Linked DNA regions of Homo sapiens: all the other regions are linked to region 2. Evidence: fine-mapped expression QTL. A gene starts in region 2. Each other region holds a variant in brackets. All regions are shown on one strand. Distances are from middle to middle. Region 1 has its middle 26 kb from the start of LINC01180. Region 2 holds the start of FZD2 (frizzled class receptor 2). Region 3 has its middle 40 kb from the start of LINC01180.

The links.
Region 1: its variant is fine-mapped to the expression of FZD2 in whole blood (INTERVAL, PIP 0.93).
Region 3: its variant is fine-mapped to the expression of FZD2 in whole blood (TOPMed, PIP above 0.99). The same link has a PIP of 0.9 or more in blood mononuclear cells and monocytes.

What each region holds. Positions count from the first base shown.
Region 1 is chr17:44,619,841-44,628,018 of GRCh38, reverse strand. No RefSeq gene overlaps it. Among named protein-coding and RNA genes, the nearest start is that of LINC01180, 26 kb to the left of the region's middle. The variant C/A (reference allele first, on the strand shown) is at 3,850.
Region 2 is chr17:44,553,251-44,561,428 of GRCh38, reverse strand. It overlaps FZD2 (frizzled class receptor 2), which reads right to left and starts at 3,945. Exons shown (of 1, transcript NM_001466.4): 1 at 167-3,945. The coding sequence starts at 3,740. The coding sequence ends at 2,043. RefSeq lists silencers at 3,199-3,248, 3,494-3,740, 4,139-4,238 and enhancers at 2,735-3,695, 3,913-4,680, 4,681-5,450.
Region 3 is chr17:44,606,167-44,614,344 of GRCh38, reverse strand. No RefSeq gene overlaps it. Among named protein-coding and RNA genes, the nearest start is that of LINC01180, 40 kb to the left of the region's middle. RefSeq lists an enhancer at 6,297-6,908. The variant G/A (reference allele first, on the strand shown) is at 3,253.

The DNA.
Region 1 (8,178 bases), 67 kb before region 2:
GCCATCAGCACAGGGGTCAGGAATCCACCTAGAGGAGCTGGTGCCCCAGCATCCTGACCTGGGCCCGGCCTGCCTGCCTTCTGGGCAGGCTCTGTGGGTGGGTGGGCTTGTGCCAATCGGAAATGGCTCGGATATAATTAACCCAACTAATCACCAGCCTCAGCCCTGTGGGAGGGGAGGGCACAGCCCATAGCCACGGCCCCCCCAGGAAGCTCCCATCTCCCCATGCTCCCTCCTCTGACTGGGGCCTGGGGTGTTCCAGGCTCTGCAGCTGCTTTGGATGGTAGAATCAGAGGGCGGGCAGGGAAGGGATGTGGGAAGAGACATGTTGCTTATTCTTATCTCTGGCCTCAAGGGGGATGTGACCGGAGGGAGTGTGCCTGAGTGTCTGAGCTGGCAAGGGTGGGTGGGGGGTGACTGAAGGGATTGTGGGGGAGGGCTTGGAGAGAGACTCCCAGCCATGGCTCCCAGGTGGCACTGGCTGTGTCCCACACTCAGTTAGCACTGCCCTCCTGTCTAGCCCTCCCGGGGAACTCTCCCGAGTGGGATACAGCTTGTAGGGAATTCTGTGTACTGGGTTTCGTGTCCTGGGCAGGGCAGGTGGAGTGTGGCATCTGAGTTCATATCTCCCTTGCGAACAGTCCTGCGAGGCCTCCAAGGGGTATCCCAACACCCTTCCTCCCTCAGCAAGTGAAGCTTTCCAGGATCTGGACCTGGCTCCTCTCTCCAGTTTCACTTCTCTGCACTTCTGGGCTCCGGCCTCGGGACTCTCACCTTCTCAGACCAACCATACCAGTGGCCTGAATGCTCTTCCCTTCCTCTGATCTGAACATTAACTACCAGTAGCCTCAGAACTTGCCTCAGGTCAGGTGGCCCCTCTGCCGTCAACCACACCTGTCCAACCCTCTGACACCCTCTGTCCCTAGCATCGTGTTCTCACTTGCCAGAGCACGTCACATTCTTTTTAGTTATTTGTTGCCTTTCTTCAGTGTGACCTCCTTAAGGAAAGTCTGTGTTTGGTGTGTCTTTTATCTCTGTATATCAGAACCTAGCAAGATGCCTGGCGCATATGGGTGCCCAAGATCATAGGCTCAGGAGCCAGGCTACCAGGGCTTGAATTCTGCCTCAGCCATGGCTAGCTGTTGACCTTGAGCAAGTTCATTCACCTCTCTGTATTATGTGTAAATGAGGATAGTAATTAATTGTACCTACCATGTAACTAGTTTGAGGATTAAATTAAATAAAGTGTTTAAAACAATGTTCACCACATAGTAAACACTTAGTAAAGTCTTGCTGGGCTTATTCATTCATGTGTTGGCTCAGTGGATGTGTCTTTAGTACTTACCATGAGTTAGGCACTTGCTAAGCTCAAAAGAGGCACAAATGCAGTCCCTGCCACATGCAACTTCCTATCATTGAATGAATACATGGATAAGTATTTGGTGTGGTACTTGTAGGTTTGTTATATGTTTTGTTAAACAAACTCATATAAATGTTTGAGAATGTGTCCAGCTCAAATATTGAATAATTATGTATCTATTTGGATGGCATAAAACAAGCAATGAAGTGGGGGTAATCCCCTATAAACCTGACAGATGAGCCGGACGTGGTGGCTCATGCCTGTAATCCCAGCACTTTGGGAGGCCAAGACGGGCAGATCATGAGGTCAAGAGATTAAGACCATCCTGACCAACATGGTGAAACTTTGTCTCTACTAAAAATACAAAAATGATCTGGGTATGGTGGCGTGCACCTATAGTCCAAGCTACTCTGGAGGCTGAGGCAGGAGAATCGTTTGAACCTGGGAGGCGGAGGTTGCAGTGAGCCAAGATCGTGCTACTGCACTCCAGCCTGGAGACAGAGCAAGACTCCGTCTCAAAAACAAAACAAAACAAAAAAAACAACCTGACAGATGTAATGGCGATTGGAGCCTGTGGAAAAGCTTGTCCGGGGCAGAGGGTCTTGGAAACCTCCTGCCCAATCTTCATTGTTAATGAGAATGTCAAAAAAAAAGGTTTTTTTTACAAAGCAAAATAATTACTCTCATAGAAATATACAATAATCGTGTCAAAATTTTTATTTAACTCATTAATTAGTGAAGGAACCAGTAAGATGTTACAGTCAGTTCAAAGGACGATCCAAAGAGCAGAGACGTATTTAGGCCATCCAGAATGATGAAATAGGCTGGGCGTTGTGGCTCACACCTGTAATCCCAGCACTTTGGGAGGCTGAGGCAGGTGGATCACTTGAGGCTAGGAGTTCAAGACCAGCCTGGCCAACATGGCAAAACACTGTCTCTACTAAAAATACAAAAATTAGCCAGGCATGGGGGTGCATGCCTGTAATCCCAACTACTAGGGAGTCAGAGGGATAAGAATCACTTGAGCCTGGGAGGCGGAGGTTGCAGTGAGCCACGTTCGCACCATTGCACTCCAGCCTGGGTGAACGGAGTGAGACTCTGTCTCAAAAAAAAGAAAAAAAAAAAAAAAAAGAATGATGAAGTAGCAACCTGGGCAACATAGTGAGACCCTGTCTCTTCCAAAAATTTAAAAAATTAGTCAGGCATGGTGATGTGCACCTGTAGTCCCAGCTACTCAGGAGATTGAGGCTGCAGTGAGCTAAGATCATGCCTCTGCACTCCAGCCTGGGTGACAGAGCAAGACCCCGTCTTAGAACAAAACAAACCAAACAAAAAGAGTGATTAAGTAGGCACGGCACAGTGGCTCACATCTGTAATGCCAGCACTTTGACAGACCAAGGTAGGAGGATCACTTGAGCCCAGGAGTTCAAGACCAGCCTGGGCAACATGATGAGATCCAAAAAATAATCTACAAAAAATTTTATCTACAAAAAATAATTTTAAAAAATTAAGGATGGTGATGCACACCTGTAGTCCCAGCTACTCAGAAGGCTGAGGCAAGAGGATCACTTGAGCACGGGAAGCTGAAGATGCAGTGAGCCATGATCACACCACTGTACTCCAGCCTGGGCAACAGAGCTGTCTCAGAAAAAAAAAAAAAGATGAAGTAAATCTGCTTAATAGATGCTAAATTGGTCAATAACCACTGAGCAATAATCAATTGCATATGCACCAGGCAATTTGCATTTCTATGGACAAGAATTATTTCCATTGATTGGGTGGTAAAATAGCTCGATGACCATAAAACTAGAAAATAACACACAAGGACAGACAATAATCTTTTTGACCATATTGGAGTCTTTCACAACTCTCCTTGAAAAGAAGTTCTGTACTCAGGTATTTCAAGATGACAAGTGCCACTCACCTCTTTCAAAGAGCTTTAGTGTCAGTAGGGAGCCCAGGGCCAACCAAAGAGAGCTGGGAATCTGCCCACAGTCTCAGGCAGGAATAGCCTTTGTCACCTATTCTTCTCCACCCCAGCACTCTGGCTCCTGTCTCCCTCTCTTCCTCTTTCCCATTCCACCACCATGTCCTGTCAAACTGTGCAGGCAATATATTCACCCCTCTACATGGTAGTCACCATTTATTTTATTTTATTTTATTTTATTTTATTTATTTTTGAGACAGAGTTTGGCTCTGTTGCCCAGGCCAGAGTGCAGTGACAGGAGCTTGGCTCACTGCAACCTCTGCCTCCCGGGTTCAAGTGATTCTCCTGCCTCAGCCTCCCGAGTAACTGGGATTACAGATGCACACCACCACACCCAGCTAATTTTTTGTATTTTTAGTAGAGTTGGGGTTTTGCCATGTTGGCCAGGCTGGTCTTAAACTCCTGACCTCAAGTGATCCGCACTCCTCAGCCTCCCAAAGTGCTGGGATTACAGGCGTGAGCCACCGTGACAGGCCTAGCCACCATTTATTGAATATCTGCA[C/A]ATTCTATGTGCCAGACACTTAACATTCATAATATCATTTAATGTTCTTTGTTGTTGTTGTTTTAATTGAGACGAGATCTCACTCCATCACCCAGGCTGGATACAGTGGCGTGATCATAGCTCACTGCAGCCTTGAACTCCTGAGCTCAAGAGATCCTTGTGCCTCAGCCTCCCAAGTAGCTGGGACTACAGGCGTGTACCACCAAACCCGGCTAATTTTTAAAATTTTTTTGTAGAGTTGGGGTCTTGTTATGTTGCCCAGGCTAGTCTCAAACCCCTGGGCTCAAGCAATCCTCCTGCCTTGGCCTCCCAAAGTGCTGGGATTACAGGCACGAGCCACCACACCCAGCCTCATTTAACATCCAAAACTACAAAATGAGGGCTCTCTTTACCTCAAATTACAACATATTTAAATAACTGATGTTCATGAAAGCTGCTGTAAGGGCATCAAACTAGCCAGAGTGGAGCAAAAGTAGTCAGACTCTTAACCACAATACCAGAAATAGCAAGTGGGGTTATTTCTCATGCCAACTGTAATTAATTGGGTGACTACCTGGAGTACTGTGGTGAGATGGATTCTGAAGCATCCTTTTGGCTTAGTGGGAGATAGTGCTGGGATCCACTAGTGATGTCTGCCATGGTCACAGAATCAAAGAATGGAAGGGTAGGCACGCGGGCCAGATTTTTGTCAGGCTTGCTTTGTGTATTGTCTCCTGCATCATCTTCTGAACACCTTACTGATGTTGCTGATGGCAGCTACTCCCTTTAAGGGCTGAATCCTCAGCGTCTGGATCATAATGCTAGTTTTCTAGGTCTTTGCTACTCAAAGTGTGATTCCAACTGCGTTCTGGCCCCTCCTCTACCCTTCCAACAGTGCCATCACCTGGGAGCTTGTTAGAAAAGCAGGATCTTGGGGCTGACCTCATACCTTCTGAATCAGAAGTTGCATTTTAACAAGATTCCCAGGGAATTTGCACATTCAAGTGTGAGGAGCACTGATCTTTTATTTCATTTTTTTTCAGATGGAGTTTTGCTCTGTCACCCAGGCTGGAGTGCAGTGGTGCAACCTCGGCTGACTGCCAACTCCGCCTCCCAGGTTCAAGTGATTCCCCTGCCTCAGGAGAGTAGCTGGGATTACAGGTGTAAGCCACCTCACCTGGCTAATTTTTGTATTTTTAGTAGAGATGGGGTTTTACCATGTTGGCCAGGCTGGTCTTGAACTCCTGACCTCAAGTGATCTGCCCCCCTCGGCCTCCCAAAGTGCTGGGATTACAGGCGTGAGCCACCACGCCCAGCCAGGAGCACTGATCTTGAGGACTGCTTTTTTCAACTGCACCTGCCCCCACCTCAGCAGCCAGAATTATTTTCTTCCAGCAGGGTACTGGCTCAGTCCCAGTCTAAGTATTCCCAGCAGACCCTAACACTTAACCCAATGTTTACAGGCTATTTCGGACTTTGAGACATCCTCCCCAACATTAGAAAAACCCTGCAGAATTCTCTGGCTTTTCCCACTATGGGTGTGAGGGCCTGTGGGCCTGCTGGGCCCACCTCTACAACATGGAATCCTTCCCTGTTTTCGGAGACTCTGCAGAATCTCCCTGGGGCCTCAAGAATGCAGCCCAAACTTTACACTCTAGCCTTTGGGACCCTTGCCCCTTCTCATAGCAGCCCGGGGAATTGGGGTGGAGTTGGACAGAGCAAAGACATGGAGGAGAAATAGTTGCTGAATCTGGGAGCAATAGCTGTTCATTCAATCATTAGTTCAACCAGTGTTTGTTGAAAATTATTGTGTGCCAAGCACTAGTGATATGGCAATGAGTAGAGCATGGTCTCTGCTCTTGAGGAAAGTGGAGCTATTAATATATACAGATCGCCGGGCATGGTGGTTTACGCCTGTAATCCTAGCACTTTGGGAGGCCCAGGCAGGCGGATTATCTGAGGTCAAGGGGTCGAGATCAGCCTCACCCACATGGCGAAACCCTGTCTCTACTAAAAATACAAAAATTAGCCAGGTGTGATGTCACATGCCTGTAATCCCAGCTACTCGGGAGGCTGAGGCAGGAGAATTGCTCGAACCCAGGAGGCGGAGGTTGCCGTGAACAGAGATCACACCACTGCACTCTAGCCTGGCAACAGAGTGAGACTCTGTCTAAAATAATAATAATAATAATATATACAGATCATTGCAATATCATGTGATACAAAAGGCAGACACTAGGGTTGTCAGGAAAAAGAGGGGGCAAGGGCATTCCATGCAGAGAGAACAGTATGGGCAAAGCTGCAGAAGAATGGAAGAATGTGGCATGATCAGGGAGCGGTGAGTACGCATGGGACAGAGGATGAGTATGGGGAAGAGTGTGGCAGGGCTGGTTAGATGGAGGATTTGGGCTGACCCCTGCAGAATTTGGATCTCACTTTGGCTTCCTTGGATTTATAGAATGTGTGTGAGCCATCCAGCCTGCTCTTAGCACCAGAACTTACTTCTATACTGACTCGAGCCAGTCAGAACCAGGAGGCATTTATGCACACACGTGCATGCACACCCCAGAGAACACATCAAAGTCAGACTCCCCAGTCAGTGACTGACTGGGTTTCATCCCTACCGACACCCCCTGTTCACACTAGTGGGAGCAGGAATGGTCAGTTAATTAACTTCCCAGGAAAAACTCTAGGGCAGGACTTTGGGTCTCCTTGACCTGAAAAACGGATAGAAATGGAGAGAGGGCTGGCTACACAGATGTACCAGATCTGCCTGTGTGAATACCTGTGTGTGTGCATGTGGATGGATATGGGTGAGGCTATACCCGCACACCTCCAGGGAAGGGTGTGAAATGGTTGCCTCTAAATCACAGGAGATATAATCCTAATTCCTTGTCAGAGAAAGAAGGATAGACTGTTCCATCGACATCCCTCTGGAGTTCATCCCTCCGGGAAACTTCTTTTGGGGGTCAAAAAGTGAGGAGGGTTTAATGTATAACTTCAAATTCTTTGACACTCCTCCTATTCAGAGGTAAGGTCTGTGTCTCCTTGCCTTGAATCTGGACTACTTTGACCAACTGAATATGGTGGCAGTGACTCTATGTGACATCCAAGTCTAGGTTATAAAAGCCTTTGCAGGGCCAGGTGCAGTGGCTCGTGCCTGTGATCCTACCATTTTGGGAGGTCGAGGCGGGAGGATTGCTTGAATCCAGGAGTTCAAGACTAGCTGGGGCAAAATAGCAAGACCCTGTCTCTATCAAAATTGTTTTAATCAGCTGGGTGTGGTGACGCATGCCTGTAGTCCCAGCTACTCAGGAGGCTAAGTTGGGAGGCTCGCTTGAGCCCAGAGTCTGAAGCTGCAGTGAGCTTTGATTTCACCACTGCTCTCTAGCCTGGAAGACAGAGCAAGACCCTGTCTCTAAAGAAAAAAAAATTTGAGACCAGCTTAGGCAACATAGGGAGACCCTGTTTCTATAAAAATTAAAAAATTAGCTGGACGTGGTGGTGCCCACCTATAATCCCAGCTACTCAGGAGGTGAAGGGGGAAAATTGCTTGAGCCTGGGAGGTTGAGGCTACAGGGAGAAAAAAAAAAAAAAAAGCTCATGCAGCCTCAACCTTGGTCCTTGTAACGCTCAAACCCGTGCCCTTTGAGCTGCCTGAGCTGTCATGTAAGAAGTCAGACTATTCTGAGTTCACTATGCTAAAGAGGTCATATGGAGGTGTTCTGTTTAATAGTTCTAGTTGAGTTAATAGTTCTAACTTTTTTTTTTTTTGAGACAGAGTTTCACTCTTGTTGCCCAGGCTGGAGTGTAATGGCACGATCTCGGCTCACTGCAACCTCTGCCTCCTGGGTCCAAGCGATTCTCCTGACTCAGCCCCCGAAGTAGCTGGGATTACAGGCGCGTGCCACCATGCCTGGCTAATTTTGTATTTTTAGTAGAGATGGGGTTTCTCCATGTTGGTCAGGCTGGTCTTGAACTCCCGCCCTCAGGTGATCCACCCACCTCGGCCTCCCAAAGTGCTGGGATTACAGGCATGAGCCACCACGCCCGGCCAATAGTTCTAACTTTAGCCATGCTCACCAATACAATAGACATGTAGGTGAAACTGTTTTGAATTCTCCTGACCAGCCCATCTGCCAGCTGAATATCATCAAATGTCCTTATCAACACCTTGTGGAGTGTGGAGCGGAAGAATCTCCCCAGCCAAGCCCTGCCCAAATTCCTGACACATAAAATCGTGAGATATAATAAAACAATTGTTGTTTTAAGCTACTAAATTTTGGGGTACTTTGTTATGCAGGAATAGATAACTGAAACAAATGGTAATAATAATTATTAAGCTATCGC
Region 2 (8,178 bases):
CTCCCATCACCATTTAGCTAAGAAAGCAAGGTCCAGGGCTGGGAGCACTCTTCTCTGCCCCACCCCCAGCCAAGTAGGTAAGGGAGAGAGGGGAGGAGGAGGTGTGGTTTGGTTAAACTAATAAAATGTTACAACCCTGTTAAATACAATTAAAAGGATAGATCTCTCAAAGATAATTAAATGCACTTTATTATTATGATTATTAGCTTTTAATTTACACTGTTAAGAAATGGAAGATGGCGAAAACTGAGTTATGTGGCATACTTGTATTCAAACTAATCCTTTGGAATTAAAATTCTAAAATATTCCAAATAGTTGAGGGAAATAATATGTGTTGGAAACTGGAGTTCTCACACCAGCAAAGATACTTTTAGACATCACTTCTCAGGAAGTTAACTTAAGAGAAGTCTTGACAGGCCAGGCACTGTGGCTCACTCCTGTAATCCCAGCACTTTAGGAGGCCGAGGCAGGCAGATAACGAGGTCAGGAGTTCGAGACCAGCCTGGCCAATATGGTGAAACCCTGTGTCTACTAAAAATACAAAAATTAGCAAGGAGTGGTGGCGTGCGCCTGTAGTCCCAGCTACTTGGGAGGCTGAGGCAGGAGAAACGCTGCAGTGGAGGTTGCAGTGAGCCAAGATCGCACCACTGCACTCCAGCCTGGGCGACAGAGCAAGACTCCGTCTCAAAAAAAGAAAAGTCTTGACTTTATTTGTAGGGGCTCAGGGGAAGATAAGAAACATCTGCTTTAAACATCCTATCAATCTTGTGATATAGAATGTAATGTAAACACTCAACCCACCCCCACAGCCACAAAGGGCCTATCCAGAGACTTCTTCTAAAGCAAAGATACCACCTTTTTTTTTTTTTTCATTTTTTTCTGGACAAATTTTAAATAAACCAGTCTTTTTCTCAAAGGAAAACTAAAAAGCCCACCAGCCCATCAGTCCCCTCCCTCCAACCCACCCGTCTTTATCACTTTTTGAAAAAAATAAGCCCCAAACAACAACAAAAACCCACACAAACCAACCCAGAAACTGCTAACCTGAACGCCAGAGATTTTTGGCTGCGGGAGTGAATAGACTGCAGGGAAAGAAGGGAAGAGATGCTAGGAGGTCTCAAACTCCCCAGATTTGCAAACAAGTGCTCAAAGGCGAATGCTTCCCCTAGACATGAAGGGAGGCAGGATCAGTACTCCTGGTGGGGTGTATGTTGGTGGGGGCTGTTTCAAAACACACTTCAAAAAGCATTTTTGGGCCACTGGAAGCACTTGGTGCAGCGAATTGAAAAGAAGAGAAGCCAGACAGGAGAAAGATCTTCCAGCCTGCAGGGGAATGGGCCAGGGGGTGGAAGCCATTCCTCACCGGATCTCTGCCCTCTCCCCACCAGCACACCCCGACCCCGATTTTTTTTTCCACGTCTTCATCTCTGTTGGGACTTTTCCAAGAGTGAGTGAAGAAGACAGGACAAATGAGTAGGGAAAGAAAAGGGGGAAGGAAACAAAACGAATCCAAGTCCTGTTCAAAAATATCCAACGGCTTCCACAGGCCCAGCGTCAGAGAGGAGGCTCACAAATTTGGCTTTTATATTAGTTGAATGGAACAAACTCCTAACGACTCAAAGCCAACAAAAACAGCGCTCAGGCTGGGTGCCTCTCCCATCAGGCCCAGCCCTGCCATATCACCAAAAAACTCCAAAAGTGGGGCGGGTTTTGAAGGGCACTTAAGAAAGAGAACCCTCCCCCCAACTACACTCCCCAACACACACACACCTCATTCTTCAGTCCTGGCGCCCACACCCCTGTTTTTTTTTCTCCTTTTTTCTTTTAAATAGAAAATATATATAATTAAATTTACAAAGACTATTTACAGTTTTAATTACAAACCTTGTGGGGGTGTTGGGCAGAGAGTTCTCTTTTAAAAAGCAACCTAAAAGTGAAATGGTTTCGATCGTTTTTTATTTAAAAAAATAAAATACGGAGTCTGTAGGGGCCCCACCCCGGGCGGAGGAAAGCGCCGCGCGGTTCCGGCCTGGGGGCGTCCCTCACACGGTGGTCTCACCGTGTCGGCTGTTGGTGAGGCGAGTGTAGAACTTCCTCCACGAGTGCAGCGTCTTGCCCGACCAGATCCAGAAGCCCGACGTGATGCCCACGATGAGCGTCATGAGGTATTTGATCATGTAGACCGTGAAGTCGGGCGACATGCGCGGCGTGTAGTGCGCCGGGCACGGGATGGCCAGGCTCTTGCAGTGCTGGCTCACCCACGAGCGCTCCCAGTGCTCGCGGAAGGCCTGCTCGTAGAAGTAGCAAGCGATGACGATGGTGGCGGGCACTGTGTAGAGCACGGAGAAGACGCCGATGCGCACCATGAGCCGCTCCAGCTTTTCGGTCTTGGTGCCGTCGTGCTTCATGATGGTGCGGATGCGGAAGAGCGACACGAAGCCGGCCAGGAGGAAGGACGTGCCGATGAACAGGTACACGAAGAGCGGCGCTAGCACGAAGCCCCGCAGCGGGTCCAGGCTGTTGAGGCCTACGAAGCACACGCCGCTCAGCAGGTCGCCGTCGATCTGGCCCATGGCCAGGATGGTGATGGTCTTGACGGCCGGCACGGCCCAGGCGGCCAGGTGGAAGTACTGAGAGTTGGCCTCGATGGCCTCGTGGCCCCACTTCATGCCGGCTGCCAGGAACCAGGTGAGCGACAGGATGACCCACCAGATGGAGCTGGCCATGCTGAAGAAGTAGAGCATCATGAAGAGGATGGTGCAGCCCTCCTTCTTGGTGCCCTGCACCACCGTGCGGTAACCGTCCTCGGAGAAGCGCTCGTTGCACACCACGCGCTCCTGGAGCACGAAGCCCGCGATGTAGGCCACCGACACCATGGTGTAGCAGCCCGACAGAAAAATGATAGGCCGCTCTGGGTAGCGGAAGCGCTGCATGTCTACCAAGTACGTGGTGACAGTGAAGAAGGTGGAAGCGCAGCACAGCACCGACCAGGTGAGGATCCAGAGGCGCGCGAAACGCGTCTCCTCCTGTGAGAAGAACATGGAACCATCGGGCCGCGCAGGTTCGCAGGGCGCAGCACAATCACGCTCGCCCAGAAACTTGTAGCTGAGATAGGATGGCACCTTGAGGACGCGCGGGCAGTGGAAGGGGTGCTCCAGCGTGGCGTAGCGCGGGGGAGCGCCGCCGCCGCCCGGGCCACCCGGGGTGCCCCCGGCACCCGGCTGCAGTCCCGGCGGCGGCGCGGTGGTGAGTAGCGCGGGAGCTCCGTCCTCGGAGTGGTTCTGGCCGACGCAGATCTGCTCGGCGCCGTGGCGCGGGAAGTGCTCGCAGCGCAGGCGCTCGGGCCACTGAAAACCGAACTTGTTCATGAGGGCTTCGCAGCCCTGGCGCGCGCGCTCACAGATAGAGCGGCACGGCGGGATGGCCTGTTCCAGCACGGTGCACACGGGTGCGTACATGGAGCACAGGAAGAAGCGCAGTTCGGGCGAGCACTGCACCTTCACCAGCGGATAGAACTGGTGCACCTCTAGGCCTGCGTCCTCCTGGTTCGTGTGGCCCAGAAGGTTGGGCATGATGGTCTGGTTGTAGGCGATGTCCGTGCACAGCGGGATGGAGATGGGCTGGCAGAAGCCGTGGTCCGGGATGGAGATGCCCTTCTCCCCGTGGAACTGGGCCGGCCCGGCGGCGGGCAGCAGCAGCAGCGGCAGCAGCAGGCGGGGCAGGGCGCTGCGGGGCCGCATGCTGGCCGCCGCCCCCCACCCGGCTCCTTGGCGCCCCCCCCGCCCCCGCCCCCAACCCGGAGACTGCGCTTCTTCCCCGCCGCCTCCTCGCTGCGGCTGCCGCCTCCCGCGCCTCTTTGCAAACTTTACTCGCGGCCGCAGAGTTGGGGAGGCCGGGCGGGGGAGGGGGCGGTGCGCCTGCCCGCTTGCTTGCCGCGGTCGGACTGAGCAGCCGGAGACACCGCGCGCTGCTGCCCTCTCTCCTCTTCCTCCTCCTCTCGCCTCTCAGCTCCCCCTCTCCCCTCCCTTCTGCACCCAGCGACTTCTTTGTGCCTCCTCCAGCCCTCACCTCGGCCTCTCCGATCCCAATTAGTCGGTTTCAAGGGGGCCCCCGCTGGCGGCCCCGCCCTCTCCTCAGCCCCCCAAAAAAGGGATCCTTGAAACCGCCCCGTCGAGCTCTAAGCACCAACCCAAAATGTGCTCTCGGCCAATCAGATTTAAACCCGAGGACCAGGCCCGAGGGCTGGATTGGTCGACCACAACATAATGAGATCAGAAACCAGATGCCAACAAAACTTTCCCCCCCTTTTGCTTTTTAAAGAGACAAGCTATTATTATATTAAGGGCTGTTTGCCCAGCCCGGGATTTCTCCGGAGTTGCCGCGGCGAGATCGGGGGACACTACTCGACCCTGGCTCACTCCTCTTCCCGGGCCGAGGTGCTCTGCCGGGTGGGGACTCTTTAAACCCTTGCCCCCGCCCCCGATCCTCGAACCCCACCTATTCCTAGTCCAATTTTTCAAATCGAGTGAAAAATCTCAAATTTAAAAATTAAAACAGACTTTAAAAAAACTAACAATTTACAAAGACCTTTTCTGTCCGCTCTTTCTGGAGCCCAGGCGAAAGTTTCACTTCACTTTACACGTAGATCCCTCGCCCTCCCCCTCCACACACCCTTAAAAAACCCTCTGAAAAATGGGATCCTGTCTCTTTAAGAGACTCTTAAAGGGACCAGGACTCCGAGGCGTAATTGCCCCGTAGCCAACACAAAGGAGCCCATTATGGTTCTTTGTGTTCGGTGGCACCTCAAAGTGAGAAAACTCAGGAACTCGGAGGCCCGGAGCTGGAGGGTTGGGGCGGGGGGCTTGGAGGGAGCGAGGGAAAGGAGAATGGCCCGGAGCTGCGGCTTCTCCCTCCCGCTTCTTCTGCGGCAAATCTTAATTGTGCAAAGTAAAGTTTAGTTGCCCTAAGGAGGAGGTCTTAATCGAAAGTTAATGGTGGGGGGCGGGGGGTGACGGGCAATTTTGAGTGAAGGGACGACTCTCTTAGGCCTGACGAACGTTTGAGGGAATTTTCCTTCTGCCTCCCCACCTCTACCTCCGCCCCCTAAAAGCTTCCAGATCCCGTCTCCAGGGCGAGAGGGGAGTTTTACCCAAATCTTAAGTGGTTCCACACCAGAGAGGGGTGGCGTGTGTGACGCGGGAGGAAACTGGGGGGTTGTGGTGAATTATCCCCTCCACATCTCTCACCTGGTAAGGGGTGGGGTGTGGCCAGCAGGGTTCCTGCTACTTTTAGAATTTTTCTTTTCCCTTCTAGGATTTTAAATTTGGAAAGGGGTCGAGGAGGAATTTGCATGTAAATCTCCTGGGCCTGATACTGGATGATGGATCAATTATTTTCTGTTGTCTCTCCCGAGGGACAGGGGAAAGGGGGGACTTAAAAAGAAGAAAGAAAATTGAGTTTAGAAAGCCCCTTTGCTTCACAGTATGGGCCAAATCCTCACAGTCTGGTGAAATGTTTCTTGCTCCAATATAGAAAAGAATTGTTTTAAACAACAACAGCAGAAGAAGAAAAATAACAAAAAGAGGAAAGGAGTAGGGAGAAGGAAAAAATATTCTAAGTAGATGGATACAAAGGGATCCAGGTTTGACAGGATTCAAAAAAAAATTTTTTTTTCCTGATCGAATGAATGATATAAAGATGTTCCGGTTTCTTACAACTTGAAAATGTTCCTTATTACATCCTGGGGAATTTGCCTTTTCCCTACACCAGGATGAAAATTTTCCTTCAAAATTGGGGCATGAGTGGGTGTCGAGGGGGATATGCCTTTTTTTGTGCATCCCATTTCCAGCCCACCCATCTCTATTCCACCAGCAAGCCCATTTTCTCTCAGAGCAGTCTAAGGATGGGAATGTTGTGCTCTCTCTGCTCCATTTGAGCCTGAGCTTTTGATCCTCAGATCTCCTGCCTAGTCCATCTCAAAGCATCTTGAGAGCCGGTACCAAACATGGAAGCTGAGCAGTGGAAACAAAAATGAATGACAGGCTCCTATACCCCATTCAGGAAGCTCGCAGTCCGATAGGAAATTGAGAGCAAATCTCCAATGTAAACGCAGCATCTTCAATTTCCTTCCATGACAAACCCGTTTTCCTGGCCTAGGGCCAGGTCTGAATGACAGTTATCCCCTCCCAGCCACCCCAAGGCAGATGGGGAGCTGGGGAGCTGGAAACAGGAAATAGAGGACATTCTTCCATTCACTCAGGCAACCTTTCATTCCTTCAACACACTTTTTTTCTTATTTCAAACCACCATAATAGGGGCTATGGAGAATGTGGAAAAAGATGACAGCATCTGCCCTTCAAAAATTTATAGTAGGCCGGGGGCAGTGGCTCATGCCTATAATCCAGCACTTTTGGAGGCCAAGGCGGGCAATCACCTGAGATCAGGAGTTTGAGACCAGCCTGGCCAACATAGTGAAACCCCGTCTCTACAAAAAATACAAAAATTAGCTGGGCATGGTGGTGCATGCCTGTAGTCCCAGCTACTCAGGAGGCTGAGGCAGGAGCTGAGGCTTGAACCCGGGAGTCGGAGGCTGAAGTGAGCTGAGGTCGCGCCACTGCACTCCAGCCTGGGCAACACAGCGAGACTCTGTCTCAAAAAAAAAAAAAAAAAAGAGTTTATAGTAGCCCAGAAGAAAAGTGATTCCACAAAGATGTTACACTTGTCTAGCATTTGTACATGAAATAAGGAGAAATCACGGTATTTCATGTTTACTCTTGCCTTTCACGTGAGGGACCTGAGTGTGAACAGGACCAGAACCTGCATCTTCAGATTACAGGCCTACCTACAGCACTTCTCATTCTGCCAACCTGCCTCTTGAGTACAGGAGCCCTGTAACTAAAGGATGTAATTTGTTATTTGATAGATACAGCATTTATTTCTGAGTTTTTAAAAATTAGCTTGGGCAGGATGCAATGGCTCATGCCTTTAATCCCAGCACTTTGAGAGGCCAAGGCAGGAGGATTGCTTGAAGCCAGATTTGAGACCAGCTGGGACAAGAAGTGAGACCCCTGTCTCTACAAAAATTTTAAAACATTAGCTGGGCATGGTGGTGCATGCCTGTGGTCCCAGCTACTTGGGAGGCTGAGGTGGGAGAATTGCTTGAGCCCAGGAGGTTGAGGCTACAGTGAGCTGTCATCATGCCACTGTGCTCCAGCCCAGGCAACAGAGTGAGACCTCTAAATAAATAAATAAATTAGCTTGGTCATTGACTTGGACCCATTTGTAACTCTGCCACTAACTATACAGCCTTGGAACAGTCACTTTACTTCTTTGAACCTCAGTTTTCCCATCTGCCAAGTAGGAAACCAACAGATTTTAAAAATGTGAGACTCCACATCCAAAATAATTTCAGAATGACAAAAATACATTTCATAATCATAAAGCGCCTTTTAAAACAAGAAGTTACGTTGAATTAAATATTTATTCAGCAGGCATCCTGGGAGACCTAGGGTAATGGCTACCCTTTTTTTTTTAGACGGAGTCTCGCTCTGTCGCCCAGGCTGGAGTACAGTGGCACAATCTTGGCTCACTGCAACCTTCACCTCCCAGGTTCAAGCAATTCTCCTCTCTCAGCCTCCCAAGTAGCAGGGATTACAGCCGGGCACCACCATGCCTGGCTAATTTTTGTATTATTAGTAGAGACAGGGTTTCACCATGTTGGTCAGGCTGGTCTCGAACTCCTGACCTTGTGATCCACCCACCTCGGCCTCTCAAAGTGCTGGGATTACAGGCGTGAGCCACTGCGCCCGGCCAATTGCTACCATTTTTTGAGCTCCTGCTAAGTTCTGCACATGTATATGCCTACAAAGTGGGTATTGTTTTTTGTTTATAGATGAAGAATCCACCTTAGGTGAGATCTGGCAACTTTCCCAAAGTCACATAGTATGTGGCAGGGGTGAGATTAAAACCCAGGCCTGTTTGGCTCTTAAAGCTGTGTTCTGTCTCCTGCATCACATAGCCCCTAATATCTGTAAGAATTGTGTGCTCTTATTCACTTAACAAATTTATGGCCAGGCACGGTGGCTCATGCTTGTAATTCCACTTTGGGAGGCTGAGGCAGGAGGGTCACTTGAGGTCAGGAGTTTGGAACCAGCCTGGGCAACATAGCCAGAACTCATT
Region 3 (8,178 bases), 53 kb before region 2:
CCCCAACTTTATGGACCATGAAATACTTCCTGGAGGAAACACCTGAGCCGAGACCTGAAGAATAAATAGAGTGTTGTGAGCAGTCACCTGTACAAAAGCTGCAAGCAAGAGAGAATTTGTACTTTCAAGGAAATGCAAGAAATTCAGAGAAGTTCGGCTCGACTGGAACATAGAGCGCAAAATTGAGAAGAGTGCCTGCAGGGCCAGGCGCGGCAGATCTTGAAAGGTATCTAAGCTCCATTGAGAGTCTAGATTTTATCCTGGGAGCCATGGACCATCACTGAGGAGTTTCCAGTAGAAGAGTGACACAGTGAGGATCTGGTTTATTTTATTTATTATTAAATTTGATTTTGAGTCAATTGTTTTGTGTGTGGGGGGTTTTGTTTTGTTTTGTTTTTTCAGACAGGGTCTCACTCTGTTGCCCCAGGCTGGAGTGCAGTGATGTACTGCTCACTGCAGCCTTGACCTCCTGGGCTCAGGTGATCCTCCCCCCTCAGCCCCCACCCTCCCTCCACCATGTAGCTGGGACACCACCACCATGGCCAGCTAATTAAAAAAAAATTGTGTAAGGCTGGGTGCGGTGGCTTATGCCTGTAATCCCAGCTACTCGGGAGGCTGAGGCATGAGAATTACTTGAACCCGGGAGGCAGAGGTTGCAGTAAGCCAAGATTGTGCCACTGCACTCCAGCCTCGGTGACAGAGCAAGACCCTGTCTCCAAAAATAAAATAAAATAAAATTACGTAAATAATTTTTTTTTTTTTTTGTAGAGACAGGGTCTCCCTGTGTTGCCCAAGTTGGTCTCAAACTCCGGGGGCTCAAACGATGCTCCTGCCTCGGCTTCTCAAAGTGCTGGGATTACAGGTGTGAGCAACTGCACCAGGCCCTAAAAGTCATTTTAGTTTTTGCAAAGGTACACACATGGTACAAAAGAGCACATATTAAAGCACAAATCCCCCTGACTTTCCTGTCCCCGGCCATCCAGCACCCCACAGGTGTAGCCTTTGGAATGCTCATTTTGGCTGCAAGTTGAAAAGCAACATGGTATTGAAGCAAGAGTGAAAACAGGAGACCCTTTAGGAAGCCGTTGAGCATTCTGGATAACAGCGGATGGTAGTGACTGTGAGAATGATTTTACACTCTAGGAGGCCAAGGCGGGTGGATCACTTGAGGTCAGGGGTTCAATACCAGCCTGGCCAACATGGTGAAACCCCGTCTCTACTAAAAAAAAAAAAACCTACAAAAATTAGCCAGGCATGGTGGCACGCCTCTGTAATCCCAGCTACTCAGGAGGCTGAAGCAGGAGAATTGCTTGAACCCGGGAGGTGGAGTTTGCAGTGAGCCGAAATCGCCCCACTGCACTCCAGCTTGGGAAACAGAGCGAGACTCTGTCTCAAAAAACAAACAAACAAACAAACAAAACAAAAAGAAAAGGAAAAGAAAAGAAAATAAATAGAAAAGAAAAGAAAAAGAATGATTTGAGAGACATGGAGGAGGCATCAATAACAGAACCTGGGGACTGATTGGACATGGGGTATAGGAGAAGAAGAAGGACGACACTCCAGAGAGGAGATAGTGCTTCAGTGTGCCAAGGAGGAACAAAAGGGGAGCCAAGTTAGGGGGATGGCGGGGTGGTCCGCGAAGATGGGCCACCAGCAATGCCGTCCCCTCATGCGCATGCTGCTCCGTTAGTGCATTTTCTGTCTCCTTAAATCCAGGGTGGAGCCGGGCACCTGATTACATGCCTGTAATCCCAGCATTTTGGGAGGCCAAGGCGGGTAGATCACTTGGGTTCAGGAGTTTGAGACCAGCCTGGCCAACATGGTGAACCCCATCTCTACAAAAAATACGAAAAATGACAAAATCCAACAAAAAGTACATCTCTACAAAAAATATGAAAAATGAGCCAGACGTGGTAGTGAACACCTGTAATCTCAGCTACTCGGGAGGCTGAGGCATGAGAGTGGCTTGAACCCAGGAGGCAGAGGTTGCAGCAAGCCAAGTGCGCCACTGCACTCCAGCCTGGGTGACAGAGTGAGACTCTGACTTAATAAATCAATCAATCCAGGGTGGCCTGTGATTTGCTCTGACCAATGGTGGCAGCAACACTGATGCCCTGACAGGTGAGGTCTAGGTCTTTTTTTTTTTTTTTTTTTTTTTTTGGAGACAGGTCTCTGTCACTCAGGCTGGAGTGTAGTGGTGTGATCATAGCTCCCTGTAACCTCCGCCTCCCAGGCTCAAGTGATTCTCCCACCTCAGCCTCCTGAGTAGCTGGGTCTACAGGCCTGTGCCACTACACCTGGCTAATTTTTCTTTCTTTTCTTTTCTTTTTTTTTTTGAGACAGGGTTTTGCCATGTTGCCCAGGCTGGTCTCAAACTCCTGGCCTCAAGTGTTCCTTCCACCTGGCCTCCCAAAGTGTTGCGATTACAGGCGTGAGCCATCGCGCCCAACCTGAGGTCTAGGTCTTAAGAGACCTGACAACTTCTACTTCTTCCCTGTTGGAAGCCAGTCACCATGTAAAGAGGTCTGGCCACCCTGGAGGAGAGGGAGCTATAGGGAAAGAGAGCGAGGGAGAAGCACCAGAGGATGAGAGACTATGAAGGAAAAGAGAGAGCCCCAACCAGCCCCCTTCTCCTCCAGCCGTCCCAGCAGAGGGGCCAGATATATTTGTGAAGCATCTTGGATGCTCCAGAACCAGTGTGGCAAGCTGTCCACACTGAATCTTGCCCAATTTGTAGAATTGTGAGCAAAGAAAAACTTGTATTATTGGCTGGGCGTGGTGGTTCATGCCTGTAATCCCAGCACTTTGGGAGGCCGAGGCGGGCAGATCACCTGAGGTCAGGAATTCGAGACCAGCCTGACCAACATGGTGAAACCCCGTCTCTACTAAAAATAAAAAATAAAAAATAAAAAAATTAGCCAGGCATGATGGCACATGCCTGTAATCCCAGCTACTTGGGAGGCTGAGGCAGGAAAATTGCTTGAACCCGGGAAGCAGAGGTTGCAGTGAGCTGAGATCGTGCCACTGCACTCCAGGCTAGCCAACAGAGCAAGACTCAAAAAAAAAAAAAAAAAAAGAAAAAGAAAAGAAAAGAAAAGAAAAACTTGTATTGTTGTAAGCACTCAGTTTTGGGGTGGATTATTTACTCAATAGATAACTGAAAAATGAAGGGAGTGGGGAGTAGAGGAGAGAGGCTTTGGGTTCAGTTTGTTGCCTTAGGGTTCTAGACCTCAGAATTTCACAACCATGGCC[G/A]GCTGCTTCCCTCCTTTCCTGTTTCCTTGCTAAGCGTCTACAGCTTTGTAGTCCAGAGCTTCAGCCTGGGAAGTTCAGGCATCTGGTCTGCTGTTTCTCTGGTGCCCAAATAAACAGCTCTAAAATTCAATAGCATGTTGATGGCTCTGTTTCTTTGGTCAGTCTATGGTAGGTTCCAGTCCACCTTTGGTTTGGGGGAAGGATTTTTTTTCCTCTGATTTGATACCCCTGGGAGAAATGTTATTTCTTTGTATTATTCAGCTTCTATTAATAACACAAGTCTGAATACAAAGTAGGTGTTCACGAAATGCCAGATGAACAGCTAGATGAGGCTCACTTGGATAGAGTCCTAAATGGGGTCCAATTCCTGAGTTCCCGTCCCACCCAGAGCCCTTCAGTTTCTCCATGTATGCAAAGGAGGTCTCACCTTACTGTTTCCCTGCAGCTCAGGAGCTGGTCCCATAGCTGGGGGTGGGGTGGGGAGTGGAGATACAGATCAATGATGAGTTAAAGGGCTCAAATGCTGTCAGAGTGTCATTCCCTCTGTGCCTCCATGGGGAAATGGCCAGAACTGCAAGGAAGCAGGTGATGTGACATGCATGGGCAGTGTGATTGATGGGGACCAAGACCTGGAGCGGTGGGTCTGCATTCCTTGGCCTGCAGAGGCCTGAGGAGGGGCCGCATGTGTTTGCTGTGTGCACGTGAAAAAAAGAGAGTAGAGAGTAAACAGATCCTTGTTGTTTGGCTCAATGGCCCTCTTCCCCTTCAACCCAGGACGGCCGCCAAGAGCTCAGCCAATTGAGATCACCTGCCTTTATCTGTCTCCATGTTGTGGTGTACTTGGTTTCCCTGCAGAACGGGACTCCCCAAGACAGGGAGCACACCCCTTTCTCAATTTCCTCTTCAGGGCCAGAGAGACTAGGGACCCTCTACGCAGTCCCTATAGGCTGCTCTTGGTGGCCCCTCCAGAGCCCCTTTCTTGCAGCTCTGAGAGGATGTAGCATCCTCCCGTGTCCCCCAACCCAGCTGTCATCACAGTGGAATCCAAGAAGGGACTCAGGAGAGACTCTTGTCCAATCTTCTCTTATTCAAGGGAAGGATACTGATCAGGGAAGTGAAACATCCAACGTCCTGGCTGGTCTCTGGCAGAGTTGAGGCCAAGACCTATGTTTCCTAACTCCCAAGTCAGTGCCTCAGCTGCCCGCACAGCCTCCCTCAGAGCTCTCGCCTCATCAACCTTTTGTTTTTTTGAGACGAAGTCCTACTCTGTCGCCCAGGCTGGTGTGGAGTAGCGTGATCTCGGCTCACTGCGACCTCCACCTCCCTGGTTCAAGCAACTCTTCTGCCTCAGCCTCCAAGTAGCGTGTGCCATCACGCCCAGCTAATTTTTGTATTTTTAATAGAGATGAGATTTCACCATGTTGGCCAGGTTGGTCTCAAACTCCTGACCTCAAGTGATCTGCCCGCCTCTGCCTCCCAAAGTGCTGGGATTACAGGCGTGAGCCACCACTCCCGGCACTACCTCTCTTTTGTTTGTCCTCTACTTTCTCTTCTCAGCCTCTCTCTGGCGCATGCCCCGTGGGAGGGACACTTGCAGCTTCGGGGAGGGGTGGCCAGCAGGCAGCCTTTCTGAGTGAGCGTGGAGCTTACGGCGTTTTTGAACACAGAGAGGCTGACGTGCACTGGCACACGCACACACACTGCCACATCCACATGCAGGTGCTACTTGACTCAGCTGCTTCCGCTTGGCCAGGGAGACACAGGCACACACACAGCCACACACACCTCTGTTAGGTGGCGTGCTCTCCACTAGTCCCTGCTCAGATGGACCCTGGCACCAACAGGAGTCATGGGACTCCTTCCATGGCCTCAGCCCTTGGTGTCCACAGCAGGCGTAACTGGGGGCAACAGATCAAGGACAGATCAGGGACAGTGGAATGACTGACCCCTGTAGCCTGGGATCTGGGAAGACAGGTTCAGAGCCATCATCCTCACGGGCTCATCTTTGTCCACTTAGGATTCCTCCCACTGGGGCCCTGAGTGTCACTCCCAGCTGGATAATGGGAGGGTGAGAACCCCTACTTTCCTTCTTCCTCTTGCTCCCTTTGCCACCCCTTCCCACTGCTTGATAAGAATCTGTTTAAACTAAGCTGCTGCCAGGCCATAGACTCCATGGAGACCCAGCTGGATCTCTTAAAACACAAGGGGAGATGTTTATCTTTTCTCCTAGCCCTGCCTGGGTTACCTCCTCCTGGCACTGCCAGCCAAGGGCCCTGCCTGGTGAGACAAATTAGGGAAGACCAAGCTGGGCCCTGGCACCTAGGCTAAGGGTGTGAGCAGTGTTGGGGGAGGGGTGGGCCTGGCAGGCGGGGGAAGGGCAGGTAGGGAGGTGTCCTTTCAGAGTTTACTCACCTCTTCCTGTCCCCTCACCTCCCACCCCAGCCCCAGTCACTCCACTGCCCCCCACCTCTGGAGAAGCTGAATTGGGATTCGATCCCCAGCCAGTTGCTGGAGTTCCGGAGCAGCTGGCCCAGGCCTTGGGGGAGGGGGCCAGGAATGCTGGGGCTGAGGCCTGGGCCGCCCCAGACAGAGCCGGCTCTGAATTCTGGGAATGTTTGTGCAGCTGGAGCCCATTAGGGGAGAGAGCCAGGCCGCTTATTAATCCCAGCCTTGTTCCCCGGGAGGGGCCAGGGCCCTGCACACGAGTAGAGGGGGAGAGGGCTCTGCTAAGGGAGGCCAGCCCCCAGCCCCCAGCCCCCAGCCCTCAGCCCTCAGCCCCCTGCTTGGTGGAGTCTCAGACAGGAGCTTGGAGATCTGGGGCCCTGCACTTCACTTGCATGGTGCACATGTGTGTGTGGGTGTATGTACCCACATGTGTGTGGGGATGAGTGTGGAGGCAGGGGTGTGGGCACAGTGAGGGGGCAACTGGGGTATGGGGAGGTACAGAGGGTATGGGGGGTATGGCAGAAAGCGCTCCTACATGGAGAGGCAGGGAGCACATGGTGGTCCTGGGAGGTGGTGTGTACACTCCTCAGGGATCCCCACCTGCCCCCAAGAGCTCCTGCTGCCTGCCACTCTGGCTAGTGGGAGAAGAGGAGAAGGAGGGGATGGATTTGTGTGGCCCAAGTGTTGAATGTGTGCACAGATTGCTGAGGACTGAGTGTGGAGGCAGGACCTCCACGTGGAGCCATGGGGGTCATGTCCTGCAACAGCTACAGGGGACGCCATCTGCCCTGACCTCAATGTGAGGAGCACAATCCTGGGGTTGTGCAGTGTATGACCTGCTCAGCTACACACAGTGCTCCTGGGAGTAGGCTGGGAGTCTGGGGGCCTGAGTTTGGTTCCAAGCTGGCACTGCTGTAAGATGTGGCACAAAGGGTGATGACACTGAAACCAAATGTAGGCCTGGCATGATGTTCCAGCTCTTCTGAATAGCATGGGGCCTTGCATCTATTTCTTTTCTTTTCTTTTTTTTGAGACAGAGTCTCGCTCTGTTGCCCAGGCTGGAGTGCAATGGCACGATCTCGGCTCACTGCAACCTCCGCCTCCCAGGTTCAAAAGATTCTCCTGCCTCAGCCTCCTGAGTAGCTGGGATTACAGGTGCCCGCCATGACACCTGGCTAAATTTTTTGTATTTTTAGTAGAAACAGGGTTTCACTATGTTGGCCAGGCTGGTCTTGAACTCCTGACCTCAGGTGATCCACCCACCTCAGCCTCCCAAAGTGTTGGGATTACAGGCGTGAGCCACTGAGCCCAGCTTAATCTCTCTGAGCCTTACTTCCTTTATCCACAGATGGGCATTGGGTCTGTCCTATGTACCTCATAGTAGTGTTCTAACTTGGTGCCATGGAGGGTGGCAGAGGAAGCACCGCTTGCCCGCCTGTTACATGTGTGTTCTCAGGATGCCATCTTGGCAGCGACCTGTCTCCTGTCAGGCCCAGCGCCGTGTGATAGACAGCTGTGGGGGGATGCTCTGGTACATCTGGTACAGAGCTGAGGTCCCCTTGTACTTACTGCTCTCACTCAGGCCCTGCCACATCTCCAGCTGGGGGCTAAGACTGTTAGATGCACAGGGTGATGATACCAGAAAGGTTCCAGGAAGAATTCTACTGGAACTTGGGAAAGTTGGGACCTGTGACGAAAATCCCAGCACCCCGTTTGGGAAACAGGGAGGAAGACGCCATGACCATTCCTTAGAGAGAGGGTTCGCTTGCACGGCCTCTGCTGAACTGCGGTCCAACCCTTCCTGGGAGAAGGTGTGACTTCGGGCTGGTATATTAGAAGGAAGGTCAACGCGGGACAGGGGCGGGGTGGAGGGTGGCTTTGGAGAGACAGTCATCGGCCTTAGCCATCCCCAGAAGCCTTGGTGAAGGAGAAGAAGAAAACCCTCTCCTCTAACCCCTTGTTTCCACAAGCCTCCCTTTGTTCAGAGGGTCAGCTTAGGTATGGTGAGTTCTCTTCAAAACTTCAGAGAGGATTTCCCTGGAGGGTTGGTGGAACAGGAACCACAGAACACCAAGGCTGGTGATTACTGAGACAACAAATGGAAATCTCGGGATGCGCAAAGAATAAGAGCTGTCCGAGAATCCCCAATCATGTCCCGAGGTGGTAGTCCCAGTGGCTTCAAATGCCAGCGGCATTTCTGTCATAGGTGGTCTCTGAACCAGGCACTCTGAGGGCCTCCTCCTGTTAAAGTCTAACACCAGGGCTGTCTCAGTTGAAGAGAACTGCGGAGGTGGGAAGGAGACCCACAAAATTCTGGAGGCTCAGCTCCTGCCTTCAGGGAACCCCAGTCTAGTAGGGAAGACAGTCCCTGACCTCAGGAAGCTCCTGTTCTAACCGAAGGGAGACACCATTTGTCCTCTAGGAACGCCCAGTGTGATGGTGGAGACATACCCTCTGTCTAAGAAACCCCCTCATCTGATG